Regions from separate parts of the Homo sapiens genome. Here region 2 is linked to region 1. Evidence: fine-mapped expression QTL. A gene starts in region 1. The other region holds a variant in brackets. All regions are shown on one strand. Distances are between the middles of the regions.

What was found. PIP is the estimated chance that this variant, and not a neighbour inherited with it, causes the effect. A credible set is the group of variants that fine-mapping cannot tell apart.
Region 2: its variant is the best candidate, but not a certain one, in a credible set for the expression of FBXO17 in esophagus muscle (GTEx, PIP 0.63).

The regions. Positions count from the first base shown.
Region 1 is chr19:38,973,432-38,978,806 of GRCh38, forward strand. FBXO17 (F-box protein 17) reads right to left here and starts at 2,311. Exons shown (of 6, transcript NM_024907.7): 1 at 2,155-2,311. RefSeq lists enhancers at 4,258-4,307, 4,758-4,857.
Region 2 is chr19:38,937,582-38,942,956 of GRCh38, forward strand. It overlaps FBXO17 (F-box protein 17), which reads right to left. Exons shown (of 6, transcript NM_024907.7): 6 at 3,820-5,170. The coding sequence ends at 5,027. LOC124904713 (a long non-coding RNA gene) reads right to left here and starts at 3,817. Exons shown (of 2, transcript XR_007067253.1): 1 at 3,633-3,817. The variant G/A (reference allele first, on the strand shown) is at 2,319.

The DNA.
Region 1 (5,375 bases):
GCAGGTCTTCTGTGGCTGTTTCCTCCTAACAAGATCCCCGTGGGGGCTCAAACACCAGTGGGGGTGGCAGGTCTCACTCATCTCTTTTAATCTAAAACACTTCGTTTTCCATTCTTCTAAAAGAGATTACATACTTTTATTATAGAAAAAATTAAGGCAAACTTTTCTATTTGATTTCTAAGCCATATGTAGAATTTGATTAGAATTGAAGAAATTAATATTTACATAAATACAAAAATGTTATTTTAAAAATATATCTTTTTGTTTGGGCGCCGGTGGCTCACACCTGTAATCCCAGGACTTTTGATGGCCAAGACGAGCAGATGGCTTGAGCCCAGGAGTTCGAGACCAGCCTGGGTAACACGGCAAAACCCCGTATCCACAAAAAATAAAAAAATTAGTGGGGTTTGGTGGGGGGGCGTGCACCTGTAGCCCTAGTTACTCAGGAGGCTGAGGTGGGAGGATCTCTTGAGCCCAGGAGGTTGAGGCTGCAGTGAGCCATGATTACGACACTGTACTCCAGCCTGGGCAACACAGTTTTGATTTGATTTGATTTGATTTGAGACAGGGTCTCAAATATATATGTGTATATATATATATACATATATATATATACACATATATATACACACATATATATATGTACATATATAGTTTTTTTTTTTTTGAGACAGAGTCTTGCTCTTGTCACCCAGGCTGGAGTGCAATGGCACAATCTTGGCTCACTGCAACCTCCACCTCCAGGGTTCAAGCGATTCTCCTTCCTCAGCCTCCTGAGTAGCTGGGATTACAGGCGCCTACCACCACGCCTGGCTAATTTTTGTACTTTTAGTAGAGACGGGGTTCATGTTGGCCAGGCTGGTCTTGAATTCCTGACCTCAGGTGATCCGCCCGCCTCGGCCTCCCAGAGTGCTGGGATTACAAGCGTGAGCCACCGCGCACGCCCGGCCTAAAAATATATTTTTTAAAAAGAAGCTCCTTAGCCAAGCCTTACAAAAAGAGAGTCAACAGATACTAGGTATATTTAATGGAACAATAAATACAAGTTAAAAAAATTATTTTATGTTAGAAAAGTAGCCAATAGAGAAGCCGAAAGTAATGTCCTGACTATACAGGGAGGTGATTATATAGGGAGGAGGAAAACCACGGAGATGATCAAAGTTGTCTCCTATTTTTAGCAAGGGATCCATGGACGCGTTGTCTAAAAGTTGATGAAATAAGAAATAACAATCCAAAAATATGCTGTAAAGATTTGGAAATAGATACCAGAGGAATAAAAAGTGGAAAAAGTTAAAAACGAGGCACCAGCGATCACGAGTTACTTCTTGCCATTTTTGAAAAGTAATGTAGTTAACAAAAAAATGTATTTGGCCGACAGGGGTTGGGGGCGGTGGTGAGGGAGAGGTTGTTGTTTAAAGGCGTGTTGTTTTCCATGCAAAGCTCTGTCCTGTCCTACGTGTCTGAGTGTCGTGTATTACTGGAACATTTTTAAAGAAGTATTATTTATTTTACAACTAGACTCCCATAATATTTGTCTTTCAAAATATGGAGTAAATAGACGCTGTCTAAAGTTGAAGAGGCAGTATACAGAGCTTTCGAACATATCACTGAACATTGCAAAAGTAACTTGGCAGAACAAAATTTAAATTGAGGGTTGGGGCCGCAGCGAAACACATAATGTGCCCAAGTTGCTAAATCGAGAAACCGCCCTCCAAGGCTTCTGATTCACAGATTCTGCGAAGGGACTGACGGCCAGAAGACAGAAAATCCAGCAACGGTAAAAAGCGGCCTGGCCTTCCCCGGGCTGTTGCGCCCACGTGTTGGTTTGCAGCGTTTGGCAGGGGTTTTGGATGGTGGCCTCCGCGGACGAGCGCAGGGATGGAGAGGCCTGGGCGTTCGAACACCCACGTTCAAAGCAAAGCCCTTCCAGATTTAGGGCTTTCTAACGTGCATTTGTATAACTTTGGGTTTAAAGGAGCCTCAGGCCGAGGGAGGGCCCGGGAAAGCGACGCTGCGGGTTATGGGACTCCCAGGGACCCGCCCCTCCGGGCAGGGCCTGGCGCGGGAATCCTTCCCGGGGCGCCCCAGCTGTGGGCGAGAACGGGACTGACGCTTGGGTCCCGACCTGGGTCCCCTACCTGTCCCGGCGCTCACCTGGCGGGCTGCTCGGAGGCGGCAGCGGCGGGCTAAGCTTCCCTTTCCCACTTTGTTCTGGGAGGCAGTCGAGGGGCTCCCCGTGATCGGCGTGGCCCAGGGGGCCCCGGGACCGGCGGTCTGGGCGGTCGGTCCTCTCCCGGGGCGTGGCGGCTGCAGCCCGGCGCCGGGGGCGGCGACTCTGAGATCCAGCGGGCGGGGGCGGGAGGCCGCCCCTCCTCCGGCTGCGGGGCCCAGCGGGAGCGAGGGCGGGCGGGCGGGGGAGCTTGGAGGGCTGCGTGCAGCGAGGGGGAGGCCCAGTTGCCGCGAGGCCAGCGGGGAGCGGGGCCAGCCCCGCGCCCCTAGGATCCGGGGCCCACCCCTGGGAGAGCCACCTCCTCTGGGTGTGCGAGTTCCACATCCCCAAGACGCCCCCGCGGGGGGACTGGTCCTAGCTCCCCACCCCCACCCAAATTCCGTTTCCTTCTGGTCCTGGCCTCCTGCTTGCGGCCGTCTCCACCCCTCACATCCATGGGATCCTGCACAGGTCCACGGTTGGTAAACCGCTTAGCTGTGAGCCCGACCCAGGGCCTGATTCGAAACACTTGGATCAAAGTCCCTGGCCACAGGGATTTTCTTGTATTTACGTTGCTTCCCAGGGCCAGATTCTCAGAAGCCCGGGGCTGATCTTAAATTAAATCCCTTCACCACACGCACTCTCTGTGGCAATGACAAACCTGTACCCTTCCACCTTAGGACTCCCCTGTCCTCCCCATCCCCCCAGCTATAGACAACTGAATTAATCCGGAGGTTCAGTTTCGGTCAGGCTGGGGCCGCGACCCATTTTCTCCCTTTACCTCTGCCCTTGGGTCTTTGCAGTCCCTTCTGATGGCCCTAGATTGCACCAGGGACCTCAAGGTGACTGATCTCAGACACCCCAGAGCTAGTTTTCTGGAAGCCAGGCCTCCCCCACGCTGGTAAATCATTCTCCAGGCCCACTGGCTCATATCTGCCACTGTGCTAAATGCTTTGTATGCATGACCTCCTCATGGACGCCTCTCCCGAGAAACTGAAGTCCAGAGATACCTGGTCTGTTGCACGTAGTCCAAGTCGCTAGCTTGGAGGGGTCACACAGCCAGAGAGCCTGGATTCCCTAAAGCCCCTTCCCCTAGAAACCTCAGCCAGGCCCCACAGCGCCATCGTGAGGACGGCGTGAGACTGCGTGTGCAGCGCGGAGCACAGTGCTGGACTCAGAGCCAACGCTAATTTGACTACTATTACATTATTTGTAACAACCGCCTTTGAAAGCATTTTCTGCTGTGGGTTGTAAAATTACTGTATTATTGGTAGAGTTTTTAGCACAGATCCACACGCAGTTCCTTATGTGAAAGGCGTAGGCCTAGGTTTGTTTTGCATTCCGGATTTTGGGGGGTTTATTTATTTTATTTTAGTTTTTTGAGACGGAGTCTCGCTCTGTTGCCCAGGCTGGAGTGCAGTGGCTAGATCTTGGCTCACTGCAAGCTCCACCTCCCGGGCTCAAGCAATTCTTGTGCCTCAGCCTCCCGAGTAGCTGGGATTACAGGAACGCGCCACCACGCCTGGCTAATTTTTGTATTTTTAGTAGAGAGGGGGTTTGGCCATGTTGGCCAGGCTGGTCTCGAACTCTTGACCTCAGGTGATCTGCCTGTCTTGGCCTCCCAAAGTACTGGGATTACAAGCGTGAGCTACCACGCCTGGCCGTAAGTAGCCATTTCTTCATGCTGCTCAATTCTCTGACATCCAGGGGCTTGCATATGTAGGGACAAGAATACTAACTAATCTTTGTTCTTTGATAAAACATTAAACAGTTGTTCCTCTAAGTCTTCCTCGAAACCAGATTTCCCTAATCATTTCAACATTCCTTCCAAAAGCCATCGCTTAAAGCCTTCCCAAATCTAATGTCAGATGTTTGCGATTGTTGTAAATACCTTAACAAATAGACAAAGCAATTGTGTGTTATTATAATGATTACAAAGCTAATGCATACTTGTGCTGACACGTGTCACCAGTGTGCTGATACCCATGGACTTGAGCTTGTTTCTTTATTGTTATTATTACAAAAAGTGGAATTGTTTATTTTTCATTTATTGATTTATTTTTGAGTCAGCGTCTGGCTCTGTTACCCAGGCTGGAGTGCAGTGGCATGATCACAGCTCACTGCAGCCTTGATCTCCTGGGCTCAAGTGATCCTCCCACCTCAGCCCCTCAAGTAGCTGGGACTACAGGGGCACGCCACCATGCCCGGCTAATCTTTGTATTTTTTGTAGAGATGAGGTTTCGCCATGCTGCCCAGGCTGGTCTCGAACTCATTAGCTCAACAATCCGCCTGCCTTGGCCTCCCAAAATGCTGGGATTACAGGCATAAGCCACTGCATCTGGCCTTGTTTCTTTATTATTGGTATTCTAGTTTTTAGACTCCTTTCCTGCAGGGAGTGTGATTTGACTCACCCAATATAAGGAGCCCTGGTAACCGCCTCAGACCTGCTGAGGTTTCGGCTTTAGGTCAGAGCCAGTTTCAGGAAGGCTGATGATTCAGGACCGGTGGAGAGGCCTGGGGAACCTCTAGCAGGGCAGCCCACTGAATGCGGTTGTCACTCAGAGCCTGTCCATGTGCTTGGATCTGAACAGGAAGAGAGGTTTTATTTATGGTCTTGGTCGTGCTTTCCCTCGGAGTCACATTTGTTCCTGGTGTCTCCTCACATGGTGCAGGCTGATGTGCCTACTTTGCAGCTCTTTCTGCTGAGCAAGGCCTGTTTCTACCCAATTAAATCTAAAGCCTTCTATCACAATAAAACCTCAACTGTCATTCCCATCAACCAAGAAGAACTGAACTAGGAGGCCCTGACATTTGCCAATCTGATGTGTTATCAAATGTTTACATTGGCCGGGCACGGTGGCTCATGTCTGTAATCCTAGTGCTTTGGGAGGCAGCAGGATCACTTGAGACCAGGAGTTCAAGACCAGCCTGTGCAACATAGTGAGACCCCCATCTCTACAAAAAATTTAAAAATTACCTGGCTATGATGGTGTGTGACTGTGGTTCTAGCTACTTGGGGGGCTGAGGCAGGAGGACCGCCTGAGCCTGGGAGGTTAAGGCTGCAGTGAGCTGTAATGGTGCCACTGTACTCCAGCCTGAGTGACAGAGCAAGACTCTATCTCAAGACAAATAAACAGGCCGGGCGCGGTGGCTCACGCCTGTAATC
Region 2 (5,375 bases), 36 kb before region 1:
TAAGAAGCTTTACCATTACTAGACCCATCTGTAAAAACATTTTCAGCACCTTCAATTGGTTTAAATTTAGTTATTTTAGGGAGAATCCAATTAGTTAATTTCAAAAATTAAAACAGTTTTGTTTAGGAAAATGGTTATCGAGAATACCCACAAAGTCAGCTTAATTGGTTTGCCAAGTAAGACTATTTATAAAAGCTTGCTGTATTTGTGCCTTTGTGAGAGGGATAATAATTTTTCCAGGATCATATCCATGTAATTTAACAATCCGAGTTCTCCCATTTCCTATCATAGTAGCAATTTGATCCAAATAAGGAGTTAGAGTCCGTGAATTAGTATGTGGAAGAAAAAGCCACTCTACAAGATCTCACTCTTGAACAATAACACCAGTAGGTGAATGCTGAGTTGGAAAAATTAGCAAATCTAGAGTCTTCTCTGGATCTAATCTATTTATTTGAGCTTTATGGACTTGCTTTTCGATTAGCCGCAGCTCTGCCTCAGCTTCTCTTGTTAATTACCGAGGGCTTGTGAGACCAGGATCTCCTCTAAGGATAGAAAATAGATTACTCATGGCATAGGTAGGAATGCCTAGAGCAGGTCGTATCCAATTAATGTCCCCTAGTAATTTTTGAAAGTCCTTTAATGTTTTCAATTGATTCCTATGTATGGTTGCTTTCTGTGGCACAATGGTAGTGTCATTTACTAAGGTCCCCAAGTAGGAGTAAGGAGTAGTAGTCTGAATTTTGTCAGGAGCTATAATTAAACCAGCGCAAGAAATCGAATTTTGTAAGTGATCATAACATTGGAGTAATACTTCTCGAGTGGGGGCAGCACAAAGTATATCATCCATATAATGAATAATGTAACACTGTGAAAACTTTTAACGAGTAGGTTCAATTGCTTGCCCTACATAAGTCTGGCAAATTGTTGGGCTGTTTAACATGCCTTGTGGCAATACTTTCCAGTGAAAACGCTTAGCAGGCTGCAGGTTGTTTACTGCAGGAATTGTAAATGCAAACTGTTCACAGTCTTGCTCAGCTAAGGGGATAGTAAAGAAACAGTCTTTTAAATCTATGACTATTAAAGGCCAATTTTTTGGAATCATAGCAGGAGAAGGCAATCCTGGCTGTAATGTACCCATGGGTTGTATAACTGAATTAATGGCTCTTAAGTCAGTTAACATTCTCCGTTTATCTGATTCTTTTCTTAATTACGAAAACTGGAGAATTCCAAGGGGAAAATGTTGGAGCTATGTGTCCGTTTTCTAATTATTCAGTAACTAATTCCTCTAAAGCCTTCAGTTTCTCTTTACTTAGCGGCCATTGTTCTATCCAAATTGGCTTATCTGTTAACCATTTTAAAGGTATAGGTTCTGGAGGCTTAACAATGGCCGCCATCAAAAATAATATCCTAAACCTTGGCGGAAACTTGTATTTCTGCTTGAAGCGGTTCCTTCAAACCTTGTAAATTTTTTCCTAGTCCCATACTAGGGACATACCCCATTTCATGCATCATATGTTGACTTTGAGGGCTATATAATTGTTCTGGAATTAGAACTTGTGCTCCGCATTGTTGTAATAAATATCTTCCCCATAAATTTATAGGTACAGAAGTTTTGGTTGAATAGTCCCAGGTTGTCCATCAGGCCCTTCACAATGCAAAATATAACTACTTTGATATACTTCAGGGGCTTTACCAACTCCAACTATGTTAAACTGAGCAGGTTGAATTGGCCATGTGGACGGCCATTGCTATAGAGAAATGAAATGTCCGCTCCTGTATCTACCAAACCTTTATATTTCTTTCCCTGAATAGTTATTTCACAGGTAGGACGTTTATCAGTAATTTGATTCACCCAATAAGCTGTTTTGCCTTGTTTATTTGTGCTTCCAAATCCTCCTGTTCGTTTAATTTCACTTTTTCCCATTCCCACATATGGCACATTCAGGAGCTGTGCTATGCGCTCTCCTGGCTCTGCTTTCCAGGGAACAGAAGTAGAAAAAACAATTTGAATTTCTCCATTGTAATCTGAATCAGTGACTCCTGTTTGTACTTGTACCCCCTTTAAATTTAAACTACACCTCCCTAGAAGTAATCCTATTGTCCCCACTGGCAAGGGTCCACAGACCCCTGTTGGAACTTTTTGCGGGGGTTCCTCAGGCAGAAGGCTCACAGCTTTTGTGCAGCATAAATCTACTGTGGCATTACTGGCTGTGGCAGGGGACAGACATTGTACAGGGGTGAAGGAGTGGCCTGAGGCGGAAATGCCCCTGGTTTCGAACAGGGCCCGGGATGGGCCCCTCATGGCATTTCCCGAAATC[G/A]GGTTCCCATCTTTATCAAACTTAGAGTGACACTGATTAGCCCAATGTTTTCCTTTTTTTACATTTTGGACATATATCAGGCTCAGCAGTTTTCTTTTTTCCCCTGTCTGCCGGCCTGACTTGCTGATTTTTTTCTGCATTCTTTTTTAGTGTGCCCATGCTTCCCACAGTTGAAACAAGCTCCAGGAAATGGAGTATTTCCTTTATCCACTTTCAGTCCTGCCATTGCCTGTGCCAACAAAGTAGCTTTATGCAGATTACCTCTGATACCATCTCAGGCCTTGATATAATCAACTAAATGTGCTTTCCCTCTAATAGGTCACAGAGCAGCCTGGCAATTGAGATTAGCATTGTCAAAAGCTAATAACCGCAACACTATATCCTGAGCAGCCGAATCTGCAATCACCTTTTTAAGATACTCCTGTAACCGAGCTATAAAATCTGTGTACGGTTCTTTTGGTCCCTGTTTTACAGCACCAAAGGAAGGGTACTGTTCTCCACCTGAAGTGATTTTTTCCCAAGCTCTGATGCACACTCCTCTAAGCTGCTCTATGGCATCATCCTGCATGACCACCTGTGCATCTAAACCAGCCCAGCCGCCGACCCCCAAAAGTTGGTGTGCAGTTATATCAATTTGAGGTTGGGCCTGGGTGTTGCGAGGAGCCTGAATGGAAGCTTCATCTGCCCACCAAGTTTTAAATTGTAAGAACTGAGCAGGAGTTAGACAAGCTCAAGTAAGAGCGTCCCAGTCAGGAGGAATCATCCGACTGGAAACAGCAACATTCTTTAACAGTCCCGTTACAAAAGGAGAACCTGGTCCATATTGATTAATAGCTTGTTTAAATTCTTTGAGTAATTTAAAAGGAAAAGGCTCAAATGTAGCTGTAATATTTCCCTGTTGATCTGGGGGATGTATTCTAACAGGGAACTGCCAAGCCTCTAAATCACCCTCTCTTCTAGCTTGCTGAATTCCTGCCTGAATGGAACTGAGAGCAGTCGCTTGAGGCACTGCCCAAACAGTCACTGGGGCAACTACTTTTCACCCAGTGTCCTCTGGAAAAGAAAGATCTGGAGGGTCAGGTCACTCTTTTTCTTCACACTAAGGAGGGGATGCAGAAGGGTAGGGATGAACCTCTTCCTCCTTTGCCACTTTAGCTTTAGCTGGCAAACAAACCTGCTCTGTTACCTCTTCCATTACTTCATTACACTCTCCCTGCTCCTCATCAGTGTGAAAAGGTTCCAAGGTGGAATGAACCAGAACCCACACCTGTCCCATTGCTACCCTGATGCTTCCGAGCTCCCCTTCTTACTCACCATGGGGATTGCTTAAGAGTACTCGGGTGTCCTCCAGCTTAGTTCCACGTTCTCCAACCGTCGCTCCAGTGACTCTTCGACCTGGGTTCGAGCCCCCACGTATGGGTGCCACTTGCCGAGACCAGCTCGGTTGTGGAGACCCTAACCCAGCGGTGCTAGAGGAATTAAAGACACATACACAGAAATATAGGGTGTGGAGTGGGAAATCAGGGGTCTCACGGCCTTCAGAGCTGAGAGCCTTGAACAGAGATTTACCCACATATTTATTGACAGCAAGCCAGTGATAAGCATTATTTCTATAGATTATAGATTAACTAAAAACATTTCTTACAGGAAATAAAGGGATGGGCTGAAATAAAGGGATGGGTCTGGCTAGTTATCTGCAGCAGGAACATGTCGTTAAGGCACAGATCACTTATGCTATGGTTTGTGGTTCAGGAACCCCTTTAAGCGGTTTTCCGCCCTGGGTGGGCCAGGTGTTCCTCGCCCTCGTTCCAGTAAACCCACAACCTTCAGGGTGGGGGTCATGGCCATCACAAACATGTCACAGTGCTGCAGATATTTTGTTTATGGCCAGTTTTGGGGCCAGTTTATGGCCAGATTTGGGGGCCTGTTCCCAACACCAGAGATTTCCCCAAACAGCAGATGACTTTGTTAGTCTCAAGGACAGACTGCCTCAGCGGACCTCTGCTCCCTGCCCACGATCATTACCCCCAAAACATGCCGGCAAGTCTCTGCTCCCTGCGTCGGCAGAGGGATTTATAAGCCCTCTCTTATAAATCCTGGTTTAGCCTTTGTTTTGTGACTGAGTCCACCGAGATCCTTGCAGGAGAAGAAAATTTGCAGGCAAATGAACTAAATGTCTCTTCCTGACACTCCCCTTCTGGGGGGCTGAGGAAGCTGTGAACAGCCTGGTTTGTCACACAGCATGATGGCCACCACACTGAAGCAGCAGCAAGCAGATTCATGGAAGGTGTGCTGAGAACCAGCCACCTGGGAGCCCTACTGTCCCTGGGTATCCTCTGGCTTCTGGCTGCAAAGCTGGTCTTTTTTTTTTTTTTTTTCATTGATATAGGGTCTTGCTTTCTCACCCAGGCTGGAGTGGTGGTGAAATCACGGCTCACTGCAGCCTCAACCTCCTGGTCTCAGGCAATCCTCCCACCCAAGCCTCCTGAGTAGCTGGGACTACAGGCGGCACCACCATGCCTGGCTAATTTTTTAAAAATTATTTGTGGAGACGGTTTCACTATGTTGCCCAGGCTGGTCTTGAACTCCCGAGCTCCAGTGATCCTCCCACCTCGGCCTCCTGAAGTGCTGGGATTCCACAGGTGTGAGCCACTGCACCTGGCTGCAAGGCTGGTCTTGACTGACAACGTCAGGCAGTAGTCCAGTCGCTAGGACAGACGGATCCTGACCCTCACACTGGAGTGGGTCACAAGGGCGCCATAGTGCCCCACCCAGGAACTCACGTCTCTCCCGTACTGCTCAAAAGATACGTAGCGGATGCCCTTGCCAAAGTTGGTGAAGACGTGGGAGACCTGCAGGGGGAAGGGGAGTGAGAGGGTGAGGGCCTGCGGGCCCCTTCTCTTCCTCCACTTCAACAGATAGGCCCAAAGGACTGAGGAGGTGCCAGTCCTGCGCTAGTTTGCTGGGGACGGAGCAGTGAATAAAACCGGAAAAGGACCCCGCCCTGGTGTCAGTGCCATTCTAGCAGGGGGCCCAGACACTGGAGATAGGTGGGGG